Regions from separate parts of the Homo sapiens genome. Here region 1 is linked to region 2. The links come from fine-mapping of genetic effects on gene expression. A gene starts in region 2. The other region holds a variant in brackets. All regions are shown on one strand. Distances are from middle to middle. Region 1 overlaps UTP20 (UTP20 small subunit processome component). Region 2 holds the start of UTP20 (UTP20 small subunit processome component).

Region 1 (5,388 bases), 61 kb before region 2:
GAGGCTGCAGTGAACCAAGATCACATCACTGCACTCTAGCCTGGGTGACAGAACGAGATCCTGTCTCCAAAAAAAAAATTTACAATTCAGTGGTTTTAAGTATATTCACGAGGTTGTGTGATCATCACCACTAATTCCAGAACATTTTCATCACTCCCAAAAGAAACCCTATACCCATTAGAAATCACGCCCCATTCCTCCCTTTCTGCAGCCTTTAGTGACCTAATGTACTTCATCTCTATGGATTTCCCTATTCTAATACATAACTTCTTGATTTTTTTCAAAATGCTTTCATATGTATTATTTTATTCACAATATTTGCCTTTTAAATCATGAGAATAACTGTTTTGCCAGACATAAGATTCTTCATCTAAAAGAAATTTAATCCTAAAAACCTTTGTCCCCCCTCAAAAAACAAATTTAAAGATCAGGTCACTGTATTAGGCAGCCGTATTACCAAAACAATAAAAAATAATTTAAAAATTTTGCTATAATAACCTACCTCTAGATTATAGAAACAATTATGCATAACTGGAATTAGGTAGTTAACATCCACAATTTGCATTTCTTTAATGTAAGAGGTGATGGTCTGGAAAGTCTCAAAGCGAACGTCGAAGTTGATATCATCAAGATGTCTTTGATCGAAGGCGTTAAGCTATAAGAAATGCCATTGAAGTTATATAAAAGAAGGCATATAAATCTTCAGTAAACAAAAATGATAATACTTTTGAAGCCAAAGAGAAACCCTTCTTTCTTACCTTGACAACATCAGTAATATATTTTAACCCACTCTCAAAATCAGAAAGAGTCTGAAAGGAAAGAAAACAGTGTATTTATCAGTGAATAAAACTTTAACTTTTCTGCCCTCCTCCCCTCAGCTACCTGTCCCCATTCAAATTCATATAAAAACATCACCCTGGCATGAAGAAAGCCCCTAATATGGTTTACAAGTCATAATTACATTTTTTTAAAAGGGTGATTTGGAGTAAAAATGAATAGTACAGACCTCAAAAACCGTACAAAGCAATTTTCTTGACAATTTGTTCTTAATAACTGAGAAAAGTTTTGCTATAGGCTTGAGGAAGCTTGTAGGGTCCACACAATGCTTTAACAAGTTTTGTACTGTCACCAGAATATCAACCTCTGTATCCTTGAGAAGAAATAATCAGAGAAATCATATTTCAGTAAGTTATAAACTGGTCAACTTATACTTTAATATATTATAGCATAGAAAACAATTGTGAATAAGATGTAAAAGTAGTAATTGGAAAAATTATTTTATCGTCTTTTAAAAGTTTTTAGCATTTTAATTTAATGTAAAACCCATAAGAATGTGTGAACCAGTTTCTTCCTTTAATTCTAATAAGCAATATATGTAGTTTTGAAACATAATTTCTTCTATTGTCTAATCAAAAAAGATACAAGAAAATGAGCTTGCTGAAGTACAGTCGTCCCTCGGTATCCAAGGGGGACTGGTTCCAGGACCCCAAAAAATACCAAACTCCAAGGATGTTTAAGTCCCTTATATAAAAAGGCATGGTATTTGCATATCACCCACACACACCCTTCTGTATATTTTAAGTCACCTCTAGATTACTTATAATACCCAATACAATGTAAATGCTACGTAAATAGTTGTTATACTGCATTTTTAAAATTTGTATTATTTTTATTTTATTTATATATTTTTTGAGATGGAGTCTCACTCTGTTGTCCAGTCTGGAGTGCAGTGGCATGATCTCAGCTCACCACAACCTCCACCTCCTGGGTTCAAGCGATTCTCCTGCCTCAGCCTCCTAAGTAGCTGGGAGTACAGACATACGCCACCATGCCAGGCTAATTTTTTTATTTTTAGTAGAAACAGGGTTTCACTATGTTGGCCACCCTGGTCTTGAACTCCTGACCTCGTGATCTGCCTGCCTTGGCCTCCCAAAGTGCGGGGATTACAGGCGTGAGCCACTGTGCCCTGCCAGTTAAAGTTTCTATCATTTTTATAATTATATTGTTATTTCTCCAAATATTTTCATCTATGATTGGTTGAATCCACATATGTGGAAATGTGAATACAGAGGGCCAACTGTATACATTTCTGGTTGTCTACAGATCTGTGGTCTTCTAAATTGAACAACTATGTGGGGAGAAATGTTTAGTATCACTACTGAGGTCTGACAAATGAGCTTGAGCCACTGGAGGACTCCTAATTAAGATTGAACTAGGGTTTGAAAATCATATCAGGAACACTTAGCTGTGTCTGAATATTAAAAGTCTGATTTTATTCTGTTTTGCCACTGTGATCTACAATTAAGATTATATAATGAGGCCGGGCGCGGTGGCTCATGCCTGTAATCCCAGCACTTTGGGAGGCCGAGGCGGGCAGATCACCCGAGGTCAGGAGTTCCAGGCCAGCCTGGCCAACACGGTGAAACCCCATCCCTATTGAAAATACAAAAAAACTAGCTGGGCGTGGTGGCAGGCACCTGTATTCCCAGCTACTTGGGAGGCTGAGGCAGGAGAATTGCTTGAACCCAGGAGGTGGAGGTTGCAGTGAGCCGAGATTTTGCCATTGCACACCAGCCTGGAGGACAAGAGTGAAACTCCATCTCAAAAAAAAAAAAAAAAAAAAAAAAAAAAAAAAAAAAAAAAAAAAAAAAAAAAAAAGATTACACAATGCACTTCTTGGGTTCCAGGCTTGTTAGAGAAAGAAAAACCCCTGAAATGAATCAGAAGCTAAACAAGGGAAATAAAGGGGCTAGTACTTTGTTGTTGTAGATGACGATGTCTCCGCTTTCTTGCCTGCCCCCATTCCTAGTGTCTGTCCCAGTCTTTTCCCTCTATTTCTAATTTTTTTAATTTCTATATAAAGTATTTTAAGTTCCTTGCGACAAATGCATCACAAAATCTAGCCAGTAAAATTGCTGCTCGCAATTAAACCTAGTGATAAAGTGCCACTCTAGAGACAAAGTTAAGTGTCCTATGAGTTTGTACCTCAGCAATATTGCCACGGTGGAGGAATGGAAGGAGAAGCGTAATGAGTACAGAACTTTGTTCTTTGTCTTTCATAAACTTGCTGATCCTAAAGAAGGAAAAAACGGATAT[A/G]TAAGGAACATATACAAGGATATTTCTCTAAGAAGTTAAACTTTTTGTAGAAAAACAATGACTAAAGACACAGTTTTAGCATTCCAATACACAGCTAGCTTTTAAGTATGTGTGCATGTATAAAAAGTTTACCTCAGTTACTTAGCTGTGCTCACTCTTACTCCTCTCCAACATCAAGCTCATGGCCACTATTCTATTTCTTTTGCAATATCTGATTGTGTGGGTTAGAGTGAACAGGTGAATAGGTGGGTTAGAGTGAACTCCAGTCTGGTAATTAGTAATTGTTTTATTTTGAAAAGAAATAACATTTTTAAGTGCCAAGACTTAAGGGTTTATGTACAGTATTTCAATTTAACACCCATGATAGCCCTGCAATATAGGAATCATCAGCCTGATTTTGCCCTGAAAAAAACTGAGACTCAGAGAAACTGATGTCTCACAGCTAGAAGAAGTACAGCAGGTCTTTCAAACTCTGGTCTTTCTGGTTCCTAATCTCCTCTCATCATCCTTCTACTACTACATAGCCTGGGATGAAATTTAATGAGTGTATTAGTATGATTTCCCACTCTGCATAACTTAGAAATACAATAGTATTTTAAAATGCATTGCAAAGAAGTTTCTAGAGGATTCGAACATATCACTTTTTGTTGACACTGTTGTAAGTAACAGAAAAAATACATTTTCAACAACTAAGCCTTGTAATGGTCAACTTAAAATTAAGATAGAATTGTTTCTTGCACTCAGGTTTATTAACCTTTCCCTTTACCGAAATCACAATACACTCCTAGGTCTACTGCCAAACAGACTCTTTAACAACCCTTGTGAGATCTTGACTCAAAAAAACCGAACAATCTGCTCTTTTAAGTTAATTATTTTTATCATTACACTAAAGAGTAAAAAACTGCAATTCCACAAAACTCAAAATACACAAATGCTAAACAAACAAATCTATTAGTCTACTTTAGGATTTTGAAAAATCTGTCCCCTTTAATTTTATTAAATAAAGGCAGATGCTATGAACGGTTTCTAGTAAGTAATCCAGCAGAGAAAGGGAATTCTGCATTAACTTAAAAGTAAAGGGCATTCAAAAATACTAAAAAACTTTTTAGCTTCTTATTGCCAGATTCCAACACCTGAAAAACAAGATAATAATTTTTTTTAAATTTATTTTATTTTATTTTATTTTTGAGATGGAGTCTCACTCTGTCGCCCAGGCTGGAGTGCAGTGGCGCGATCTCGGCTCACTGCAACCTCCGCCTCCTGGGTTCAAGCCATTCTCCTGCCTCAGTCTCCTGAGTAGCTGAGATTACAGGTGTCCACCACCACGCCCAGCTAACTTTTGTATTTTTAGTAGAGACGGGGTTTTGCCATGTTGGTCAGGCTGGTCTTGAACCCCTGACCTCAGGTGATCCACCCACCTCAGCCTCCCAAAGTGCTGGGATTACAGGTGTGAGCCACCACGCCTGGCCAAGATAATAATTTTTTAAAAAGTTAAAACCAAGGATGGTAATGTTATCTTTTAAGTATCAACATATCACTTACTTTGAAAGAATGCCAAGCTCTTTACTGACTTGTGCTCTATTCTTTTTCTTTTTCACCTTTTCTGCGCTTATTGTGGTTTTGCTGAGATACTGAAGAATTGCAGGTACATGAGGTAGAATTAATCTTCCTCCTATTGTGATAGACTCTGAAATAGATAGTGATTTGATTTGATTTTAATAAACTCTCTTAAGGCATAATTGTACAAAATCTTCATGATGATAAGAAAAGCACTCAACCACTATGAACATTTAAGTTAAATTTCAATTCTAAATAAATTCTAAATTCTAAATAAACAACTTTCTTCTTATTCAAAATAGCTATATTACTAGCTAAATCAAGAACTTATTTAAGAGACCCCTGAGGCTTTATTTAAACCATTTTTTGGTAATAGTAAGGGAATTATTTGGGATAATATGGTAAGAAGAATGTAGAGACATGACAGTAGAAATCATTTTCATAATTTCCTGCAGCAGAGTTGAGACTTCTTGGAGAGTAAATAATCTATTCTTATAACTACAAAGAAAATTCAGTTTATATAAATTAGTATTAGTTCCCAGGGAAAAGAAACTTCTGAGCATATGCTCTCGAGTGAGTCAAATTATACTGATTTTTTTTCTCTTCTAAGGAAACAATTGCTACAGCAGAAGTCTAAGAATTATCTGCTTTGTCAGCATACATACCACCGATGTTTTCTGCTATGCCAGGGTATACACATCCAGTTACCAGCAAGTTCAAAACTGTTTCTGTAGG
Region 2 (5,388 bases):
GTGCTCCTTTACCTATAAATATATCTTGATGAGTAACATCCTCAACCATTCAGCCTTAACCTCATTATCTTCCTTGCTGCAAACCCAGTAGGTCACAAGTCCTATCCATTCATTCTACTTCCTCAACATCTCTGGAATCTTTCTCTTCTCTCTATCTTGATTGCTGCTACCATAATCATTTCTTACTTAGATAACAGTCAAATCCTCACAACTGGACAACTGAGATTGGATCTCCAAGTTAAAGGCATGTTACACAGGACCTTAAAAGGCTAGCAGAGGAATCATGACATGATGAAGAACTGCAGTCCTGCTCTTTTCTCCACACTAAAGCCAGAGAGATTGAAAATTTAAACCTGATCATGTCATTCATTCCCCTGCTTACAGTCCTAGAACTCTAAGTCCCTACAGCTTCAGGATAAAACCCCAACTTAGCTTCACATATGAAGTCCTTTATGATCCTTGCCTATTTCTCCAGCTTTATCTCACCAGTTGCCCCCTTGCCCCATCCCAGTCACCATGAATACAAAAAAAAAACACCCTATACACACCTATAACCACACTGGACTGCTTTGCAGTTTCTTGAATGTGACATGCATTCTCTAGCTTCTGTTCCTTTATATAGGCTTCTCCCTCAGCCTGGAACAGGCTTTCCTGTCCTCTTTACCATGCTAAAACCTATATAAACAAAATTCAGGTGTCACCTCGTCTAGATCACCGTTTTTTTGACACCCCTAAAGAATGTAGGTTAGGTTCCCTTTACTATGAGTTCTCAAAGCACAATGTGCTCACCTAGACGACATCATTTAACACATTGAATTTACACAGTGGAGATAATGCATTCAAAGACCCAGCGAGTGGAGTCTGATTATAGTAAAGAAGAATATTACGAACTGAGATTGGATCGCCAAGGTATAGGCATGTTACGTACGACCTTAAAATGCTAGGAGGAATAACGACATGATGCAGAAAAAGACTTCTGCATAAAAGGATGACAAGGCCGGGCGTGGTGGCTCACACCTGTAATCCCAGCACTTTCGGAGGCCAAGGCGAGCAGATCACGAGGTCAGGAGATTGAGACCATCCTGGCCAACATGTCAAAACCCCGTCTCTACTAAAAATGCAAAAATTAGCTGGGTGTGGTGGCACGTACCTGTAATCCCAGCTACTCGGGAGGCTGAGGCAGGAGAATCGCTTAAACCTGGGAGGTGGAGATTGCAGTGAGCCAAGATCACGCCACTGCACTCCAACCTGGAGACGGAGCGAGACTCCATCTCAAAAAAATGAATAAATAAATAAAAGTAAAATAAAGGGATGACAGAGTCAGAGTATGGTTAAAACTGGAAAATATTATGTAGTCTAGCCCCTTTATTTTTATAAAGGAGAAAATTAAGCCCCGGGAAAAGGGCTTCCTCAAAATCACTTTAAAGTTATAGCTTCAGGAATATGGATCTGCAGCAGTGCTTGGAATGCATAAGGGAAAGGGAGAGGCTAGAATCACAAAGACAGCTGAAAGTCAAGTCAATTGTCTAATAGAGCTTCACCCAACAGAACTTTCTGCAAAGATGAAAATGTTCCAATTCTATATTTATTCAATATGTTAGCAACTAGCCACATTTGGGCACCCAAATTTTTAATTTACTTTAAATCCAATTTGTCATATGTGGCTACTGTATGAAACAGCACAGGTCTAAAGCATTTCATGTCCAAAAAGGAATACCTTGAAAAACAATTCACTTCTACTAACAGAAGAAACTAAAACACCATGAACACTTGAAGATTGACTAGTATCACATTCTCTTACCTCCTCATAGCTTGCAGTTCTATCAATCCGGTGAATAATATCAATATTAACATTCCCCAGTCGTTCAGCAAATGTAAGAAACTGGAAGGGAAAGTATATTTAAGATACATAATTAATTAAAATTTATCAGATCTTTAATATCTATTTGAATGCTGCATGTAGGCATCTCTAATCACAAAGGATAAGTGGAAAAATAAACTGAAAAACATACGGCCGTAAACAAATTTACTGCATCACTGTTCAAAGATAATGAATACTTCTATGTTTGCATAATTTCTCTCAGCTATGTCATTTCAAATAAAATTTCCATTGCCAGACTGGTGAGCCTAGGTGGATGCTGGCAATTAGTCTCGCTAGATCTATTAGGTTTCATACCCTCCCATAAGCATGGGGACCTAGCAAAGTCGCTGCAATAAAAGTGTTTTTAAACATATACAGACCTATGATTGTATCCTAAGGAAGACCTGGAAACAATCTATCAAGGGGCAAACAGAGAAAGCGCTGTATATTTGCCCTTAGCTGGGAATCACTCACCGCCAGCCGACTCGCCCAATTCGGTCTTTAAAGATAAAAGAGCAGGGGAGAATTGGTCCTAAGCAATCTCCTGGAATAGTGAATTTAATTCTGGACTACAGGAAATTCCCAGGACTGGCCAGACCCCATAAAACATGGGTGAAACTTGCTGTCCACACTTCTTTCCTCCTCCAACCCATGTTTACTACATCCAGTGTCTCCCTCTTTCGCCGGAGCCTCCAGGAAAGTGACACACTCGGCCCAGAAGTCTGAGGCCCCTGGAGTCTCGCTCAGAGCCTGTCTCACGACTGAGGCAGCGGAGACCCGCGGCTCCCTGCCTAAGCTCCCGCGCTCACCCGGTAGGTGTTCTCGGTCTTGTGGGAAACGGGCTTTGTCTTCATGGCTGCAGAGGGCCAGTGGCCCGCGACGGCCTCGGGAGTGTCGAAGGGATGCAACCGACAGTAAGGAGGGGAAAGCGGCTCACAGGCTATACTCTCCGATTCCCAGATGCCCAGACTTTCTCACGTGCGGCTTGAGCCCCTGGGCGCCGCCATGTTGGAGACAAGGAGGAGCCTGAGTGGGTCACGTGGACGGAAAAAAGAACGGCGCAGGCGCACCCTTTGGTGGGGTGGGGCCTACAGGAGGCGGGGCTGCGCACATAAGGGCGGGCGTTTGGGTGAGGTGTTCTTTTCACTCCCTTCGGTAAAGGTTTAGAAGACAAATGTATTTTCATTATAAAATAAAACATACCTGTAATCGTTATCAACTAACATTACTGTCCCTCACTACGTACCTGCATCGTGCAAAGATCCTTTCATCCATAATTTCACAGTAAAGCTTATTAGGGATGTTAATACAAAGGAGGTACTGCGTCTATCTATATATCTATATATAGATATATACTTTTTTTTTTTTTTTTTTGAGACGGAGTCTCACTCTGTCTCCCAGGCTGGAGGGCAGTGGCGCGATCTCGGCTCACTACAATCTCCGCCTCCCGGGTTCAAGCAGTTCTCCTGCCTCAGCGTCCAAAGTAGCTGGGACTACAGGCACCCGCCGCCACGCCCGGCTAATTCTTTTGTATTTTAGTAGAGACGGGGTTTCACCTTGTTGCCCAGGCTGGTCGCGAACTCCTGAGCTCAGGCAATCCGCCCGCCTCGGTTTTCCAAAGTGCTGGGATTACAGGTGTGAGCCACCGCGCCTGGCCGGTACTGTGTATATTTTTAAGCCAATTTGACACAAGAGGAAACCAAGGTTGTGCAGCTGGTAACTGGCAGTCTTCACTCAGACTCTAAATTTTGGTATTCTTAACCACTACGCTGTAAATAAAATTGAAAAATAGAGAAGGAGTTTTAAGAAAAATCTTTTAATTTCATGCACAACCGCTGTTAATGTTTGGTGTTTTTCCCATCACTTTAATGTCTACACATAGCATGTTGTTAAATTGTACAGTTATATATACATATATGTACAATTTTAAAAAATAATTTAAAAATATAATTATTTACCCCATTTTACATTCATTCATTCATTCAGCAACTATTTCTTGAGAGTCCTCTGTGGACCAGGTACTGTTCTGGGAGCCAAACGAGAAAGGCAATAATAGTATTAATTAATTATTTGAAAATATTCACAGCCTTCAATTCCTGGGCTAAAGTGAGCCTCCCACCTCAGCCTCCCAAGTAGCTAGGGCTACAGGCATGCACCACCACACCCAGCTCTTTTATTATTATTATTATTATTATTATTATTATTATTATTATTTGTAGAGATGGGATCTTGCTATATTGCCCAGGCTGGTATCAAACTTCTGGACTCAAGCAGTCCTCTTGGCTTGGCCTCCCAAAGTGCTGGGATTACAGGGGTGAGCCACCATGCCCAGACTGGAAATACTTGGTCTGAGATGCTTACATTTTAGTCAAGGAGTGATGTTAAGTAGACAATTGGATATATTGTTGTACAGAGCTCACTGTAGCAGTCTGGGCTGCAGACGTGACTTAAATACACCTAAATACCTCAAGTGTGAGGCATTTGCGACTGGGAAAGAGAGCCAGTAAGGTAGAAACAGACTAGTTATGGCATGGAAGCAGAGCTGGTGGCCAACTATACTGCAAATTCGAGGATAGAGAAGTGGTTGCTGGATCTGACAAGGTGAAGGTCACTGGTGACCTTGCTAAGTACAGTCTAGTTGGAAGAAAGGAAGTGAAATATGCATGGATTGAGGAGGTAATCAGAGTTGAGAAAGTGAACATAACACTTTCAAATTGTTATTGGCATTATCACATCAACATTTTCTGTGTCACCACAGGGTTGTTCTAAATATTTTAATGCCTCCATAGCATTTATAGATTTTTTTATAATAAAATATTGACGTGCCTAATGTTCCATTGGCTTTCAGTAGGCTAATAATTGGTCTTTTTTTTTTAAAAGCCTTTTATGGGTCACAGGGAAATCTAAGAAAGCTGTAGAACTTCTCCCAGAAAGATGCAAAGAAGCTCATCCACACTAAAATGTGCACGTTTCAGAGAGTTAGAAGCCTGCAGTTAACTGAGGGTAGAAGCCCCCACTCAAAGCAATATTTTCCCAACCTGTTGCCAAAATCACCCCCACATCATTGTGCCATTTTCCTTCTCTGCAATTTATTTTTGGTAATGGAGTTAACTGGACAATAAGGAGTGAAGAGAAAAATCAAAGAAACTGAAAGAACTGACACAAGTTATATTGACCATTTATTGTTTGCATTGTTCTTCATTACATGACCCTCACACACTGACTTGACTCTGACTGGCTTAACAATATGTCAATAGAACATGGTGGTTGAGAGCATAGATGCTGGAACCAGGTTGTCTGGAGGTAATCCTGGTTCTGCCATTTATTAGTAGGGTCAGTTACCCTTTCAGAATGACATTTCCGTATATGTAAATGAAGCTAACAAAAGTAGCTACCTCACGGGTGGTGATTATGCAGAGTAAATAAGCTAATGGATAAAAGATGCTTAGAATGTGCCAGACACCATAATTGCGCAAGCTCAGAAATTACTTAACCTTTCTGAGACCCAATTTCCTCATCTATAAAAT

Evidence for each region. PIP is the estimated chance that this variant, and not a neighbour inherited with it, causes the effect. A credible set is the group of variants that fine-mapping cannot tell apart.
Region 1: its variant is the best candidate, but not a certain one, in a credible set for the expression of UTP20 in skeletal muscle (GTEx, PIP 0.76).

Annotation. Positions count from the first base shown.
Region 1 is chr12:101,338,208-101,343,595 of GRCh38, reverse strand. UTP20 (UTP20 small subunit processome component) reads right to left here. Exons shown (of 62, transcript NM_014503.3): 30 at 5,319-5,388; 31 at 4,639-4,783; 32 at 2,986-3,073; 33 at 1,007-1,150; 34 at 759-809; 35 at 503-655. Among named protein-coding and RNA genes, the nearest start is that of UTP20, 61 kb to the right of the region's middle. The variant A/G (reference allele first, on the strand shown) is at 3,097.
Region 2 is chr12:101,277,610-101,282,997 of GRCh38, reverse strand. It overlaps UTP20 (UTP20 small subunit processome component), which reads right to left and starts at 2,893. Exons shown (of 62, transcript NM_014503.3): 1 at 2,671-2,893; 2 at 1,802-1,882. The coding sequence starts at 2,715. RefSeq lists enhancers at 2,820-2,869, 2,603-3,194.